Regions from separate parts of the Homo sapiens genome. Here region 2 is linked to region 1. Evidence: fine-mapped expression QTL. A gene starts in region 1. The other region holds a variant in brackets. All regions are shown on one strand. Distances are from middle to middle.

The links.
Region 2: its variant is fine-mapped to the expression of ALDH8A1 in whole blood (TOPMed, PIP above 0.99).

What each region holds. Positions count from the first base shown.
Region 1 is chr6:134,948,483-134,951,411 of GRCh38, forward strand. ALDH8A1 (aldehyde dehydrogenase 8 family member A1) reads right to left here and starts at 1,619. Exons shown (of 7, transcript NM_022568.4): 1 at 1,434-1,619. The coding sequence starts at 1,571.
Region 2 is chr6:134,917,472-134,920,400 of GRCh38, forward strand. ALDH8A1 (aldehyde dehydrogenase 8 family member A1) reads right to left here. Exons shown (of 7, transcript NM_022568.4): 7 at 1-1,396. The coding sequence ends at 944. Among named protein-coding and RNA genes, the nearest start is that of ALDH8A1, 31 kb to the right of the region's middle. The variant G/C (reference allele first, on the strand shown) is at 1,149.

The sequences.
Region 1 (2,929 bases):
TATGCCCATAAAGATGTACAATTATTATGTATCAATTTTTTAATTTTTTGTTAAAAAAGGGCTTAATGACTGCAAAGCACAAAGCAAAAGTTGAATAAACGGGAGCCACTGTTAGCAGCACCAGCAACATTTTCCTGAGTGATGTTTTGGAAATTGGACATGCAGTTTGTATGGTAACCATATTTTTCAAGCCGGAAAAAACTATGACTTATGGGATCAGATAGGATATTTGGAAGTTGGATTGCTGAGAAACTGAACATATCTATTACTCTACTAGCTAGCGCATCCATAGCTCATTCTATTTTCTAAAAAGTTATGAGCCATTAGCTGCAGGAAATATTTCAGCTGAATTTGGCATGTTTGTCATTTTTAACTTCACTTTGGCAAACAAGGAAGAGTGGAAAACACAAAGCTGGATTTCCCAGAGCTGTGTTAAGTCATTTGAAGCAAACAAAATTGCAGTTTATAATTTAACCAATGCATTAACCAACATTTGCAAACATTAATCCCTAAGTCTGAAGGTTTACTTTAAATGCAAGACAGATTTGAAGTATTAACAAAAAAGAAAAAAAATAGCAATGTTCTTAAAAAAAAACTTTGCATGGAATATATATTTTTATAGGAAGACTATATTTTAAATAATCTAGTTATTTGTGCCTTAAAAAGAATAAATTATAATTCATAAGGCATTAGATGACTATATATACATCAGCTACATTTACCACTTCAGATATATTTACATTCTCAGTGCAATAATTGATAGCTAATCAAATATATCTCAAATATTTTACAAAATTCTCCAAGTAAAATTAATTCTACATCACCAAAAAAATGTAATGCATATGCCATTAAACACTTTGGATAAGAAAAAAGACGCTGTTAAATCTAACTCCAAAAATATATGGGAATTTGATTTTGAGTTTCATCATTCAAATGATTGATTTTATTTTACTAGGTATTTTGAAGACATGACAAATTATGAGAAGACAATCTAAAACAAAGCCCACAGTTTTTTGCTTGTTTGTTTATTTTAGTAAAGCTATACTTTTTTTTTAATTCCATGGATATAGTGGTAAATTTAAGCAGTGCGTGGTGGAGAAAAGGGAATATTTAACAAAGTGATAGCTCTTACAAATAATACTTTGTACTAGACACTGATTAGGAAATGTTTGAGAATTGCAAAAAAAAACTGCACACAGGGCTGTGTTAGGTTGGCTAGAAAAATGACTTACTTTCTGCATATAGGAAGAGATTTGTTCTAGGTATCATACAGTCCAGTTACAAGGTACATCTTCTGAGAACTAGAATCTTCCTTCTATCATGTTTAACAATCCTACATCTTCCCCCAACTCCCTCTGCTTTTAGAAAACTGTTACCCATAATTGGCCAACATATTAAACACATTTCAGTCTTCTTTAAGTGCATATACTCACCTCGTCTTTTCCACTATTTGGCACTCTGCAATACACTTCCCCTGTTGATGGGTCGTAAGAATCTATATATGAGCTACAAGGTAAAAATTTTCCATCTATGAAGTTTTCCAGCATCAAAAGTGCGTTTGTTCCAGCCATAGCAAGGAAAAATTCTGCCTTTCCTCTTTACGACTGAGCACTCAGGTTGTCCCCACCACTGTCTGGACTCCTGAGTGAGCCTCCCCCTTCCCAGCCCCCATCTTCCCCTTTACCAATCAGTGAATGTGGGAGGGCACCTGACGCTCTCAGAGAGCATTCCAGTCTCCAAACTCAGAACTAAGAGAGTGGCTGAATGTTTCACAGACTTCTAGTACATTACCTGACATGGATAATTGTGTGTAAAAGTAACAGCTACTTACTTATGTGTTCATAGCCCTTTAAATCATCAGAAGGCATCTGTGCATGTGATTTTATTGGGTTCACACCGTAAACTGTTCATTGCTCAAACACTGATTGGATGCCAGGCCCCAAAGCAAGTCCTTTACATGAATTTACTCGTTTATTCCACACAACAATCCTATATGAAGTAACCATTACTTCCTCTCTTTTATAGAAGAAACTGAGCCTTGGAGAGGTTAGACCATTTTTCCAAGGTCACATAGTTAGCAGGGGATGAACTGTAGCCCTTTAATCTCCAAATCATATACTTTTTCCTCAATGCATCACTGCTTACCCTGCAGAGGTAACTGAAGACAGATGCCCTCTTTCCGTGGCTCATCTGTGTTTCTTTACCTTGGCTGCCCTCTCTTGGAAGAGCTGTCTCTCCATCCCAAAACCGGGGCCACAGTGGCTGCTCACATCTTCCTAGATGTGCCATGGAGATAAAGACAAGCCAAAAACATGTGTGACACATATAGCAAGGGCTTCAGATCCCTGATGTAGCTGAGAATTTCTACAAATTGGTAAGAGAAATGAGCACCCCAACAGAAAAGATAAGCAAAGATACAAAAAAGCAATCCATAGGAAAAGGAACACAATTGGCTAATGAATATATTAACAATGTTCAGCCTTGTTGTTAAGCAAGGAATGTGAAATACAGAGGTGGCCTGATTTGCCAATCATACTGGAGAGCATTTTTAAAGATTGAGAACATCTACTCTGTGAGGATGTGGAGAATCATCCCTAGTCCATAGGCGGGAGGGTTCACAGAACACTGCTTGGGGCAATTTGTCAGGGTCTGGTCAATTTCTCTTCTAGGAATCTCTCCTACAGAATTACGTGCTCATGAACAAGTACATAAGTCACAGGACATCCTTTTTTATCATAATTTAAAAATCAAAACAACCTAAAGTCCATCAATTGGAGAATATTAGAGTATAATTGTTATATTCTTAACAGGGAATACTACTTAGACATTAGAAGGATGCATTGTTAAGTGAAAAAATAAAACTAGTGAATAATATATACAGCATAGTTTCTTTGGCTATTTACATGGTTGACAGGAAGCCGTTTTAAAC
Region 2 (2,929 bases), 31 kb before region 1:
AAATGGAATTGATTAGACTCGACCGTAGGAATGGATCAAACTATGTACTCTTCTTGTTCCAAGTTTCCTCCAAAAGTAGTAGTTATTTTGTTTTTCTTCATCCTTGTACAGATACATTTAGTAGAGCTTACCACATAGCCTTCCCCTAACAAATTCCAAAGACGTCCACAGCCCCCTTATGTAATGAGGTCCAATCAATGATCAATTAGCCATGCTAGTGGCTAATAGACAAGGAGATTATCTCCATAATCTCTCCAAAGATGGCAAATTATGGCTATTTATTTTTGGTTTTGCAGCATTTTTTTTTTAAAGACAAGGTCTCACTGTATCCCCCAGGCTGAAATGCAGTGGAATGATCATGGCTCACTGCAGCCTCAACCGCCTGGGCTCAAGCGATCCTCCCACCTCAGCCTCCCAAGTAGCTGGGGCTATAGGCAGAGGGCACCACACCAAGCTAATTTTTAAACTTTTGGTAAAGACAGGATTTCACCATGTTGCCTAGGCTGATCTCGAACTCCTGAACTCAAGTGATCCACCCACCTTGGCCTCCCAAAGTGCTGGGATTATAGGCATGAGGCACTGTGCCTGATTGCATATTTTTTAAAATTTACCAAATGAAATAATCTGATTATCTGGAGATTCCCAAGAGTTCAATGAAGATGATGAAAGAAACACTATGAAAACATAACCTGGGAGGAGCCTGACAACTGGCATCATTGTTCTATCTTCCTACTTATAAGTCTTTTTTTCCGAGTCCACATTGAAAATAGACAGTATCTCTTCACTAGTGGGTAAAGTTACTAAGAACTGAGGATAAGCTAGAGATAACCTTCTGCCAAGTCAAGGCATAGCTGGAATTCATGCCATGATTTTCATCTACCACATTGAACAACTGATGCCTGCAGCCAGGCATTGGCCATAGTGGCTCCACCATTAGCAAAGATCAGTGTTTAACGGTGATGGTTTTGATCTCAGTGAAGAAGTCGTAAGAGTCCTTGGCTCCCTCTCTACCTATTCCAGAACTCTTCATCCCCCCGAAAGGAAGGTTCAGCTCCCTGATGAGCCAGCAGTTGGTCCAGACCAAGCCAGACTGCAGCTTCTTAGCCACCCGGTGGACGCGCCCCACATTGCTGGACCACACGGTAGCC[G/C]CCAGCCCATACTTAACGTTGTTGGCTCTTTCAATCACCTCCTCTTCACTATCAAAGGGGACGACACACGTCACTGGACCAAATATCTCTTCCGTCATGCAGCAGGATTCATCCTTAATGTCTGTTATCACCGTGGGAAGCATAAAGTAGCCTGCCTGGTTCCTGGCAGGGAGGCTCAACTTATCCACTCCCTCACCGCACCAAATTTGGGCACCTTCAGCAAGAGCTCTCTTGACGTAACTTCTGACCTGCGTGGGTAAAAATCATAATTAGCAATGTCTTACCATGTGGCTTCACACAAATCAGCAGAAAATTCAATGTTTTCTAATCATCTCGGAAGGAGGGATAAGGTCATTCCTAAGAAATCTATGGTCGATTATCTTATCACTCAGCTGCTAAGCCAGAGGGCAGAGGCGCTCCAAGCATCATTTGGGCAGTCACCTTTCATACATAAGGGAGGGAAGTAATTATTTAATGTCTAAGTGCCAGGAACTCAGATAAGTGCTTTTCATACACTCTCACTTGATTGTCTCAAAACATTATTAGCTATTGTTAATCTATTATTATCTTCTATTTGCTGATAGTATAATTGAGTGTAAAAAATATGAATGGTTCATAGAGCTAATAAACAGTAAAGTTAGAATTCACACTCAGGTATATTCTGTAGTTAAATACATGAAAGAATATTTTCTCCCTTTTTGGGAGCTATGTCCATTGCAGAAAATGGGAAGAGAAAGATGTGTAAGATTTAGTTAAAGGCCAGAATGCCCTTTAATAGATGAGCTTCCAGAACAAATCATTTCTAATTTCTAGTCTCATTACTGAATATACTCTGAAAATATATCTAGGTAATATATTTTAGCTAACTATAATGGGAAATAAATTATGTAGCTAGTTAACTCAGTGACTCAGAGATAATGACAGATGTATATTAACAATGGTTGTAGAAATAGCTCATAATAATTATATATATATAAACATTGTTGAAGTCACAATTATATGTTTTTCTACCCCAAGAGGTATTATAAGCAAAAGAGAAGTATAAAAGTAGTCCTAAAAATTAAAAATGTAGAACAGCAGTAAAGAAGTAAACCAAAGACAGGGTAAATTTTGCAATAATATTTTGGATTTTTACTTATCTATCGAGCATTCTGCCCCAGGATTACATTAGAACTCCATTGTAGAACTATATTCAGTGTAGAACTATATGTATATTCTCCATGTAAAATAGAGGTAATATTATTCTATTATTAAATTTGCTCCAAGTTTGTAGAATTAATAAGCCATGAAGTTAAAGACTTTTTTTACAGACAATGTCTCACTCTGTCACCTGGGCTGCAATGCAGTGGCACCACCATGGCTTGCTGCAGCCTTGAAGACTCCTGGACTGAAGAGATCCTCCCACCTCAGCCTCTCGAGTAGCTGAGCCTATAAACACAAGTCATCACGTCTAATACATTTTGTTTAATTTCCTATAGAGATGGGGTCTTGCTATGTTGCCCAGGCTGGTCTTCAACTCCTGGTCTCAAGGGATCCGCCCAAAGTGCTGGGATTACAGGAATGAGCCACCACACCCAGCTCAAGACTTTTTTAAAAAATAGAGCATTTGGTACAGATTTATATTCCCTTCCATTAACTTCCACTCCCAACATCCATAGTGATCTCAAAGCTTTCCCAGAACATAACGCTATTCTAGTTTGTGGGTAGAAACTAAAATAAGTTTGTACCTCTCTTGATCCGTACCCTCTTTCTTTTTTTGAAAATAACTCATCCACACTAAT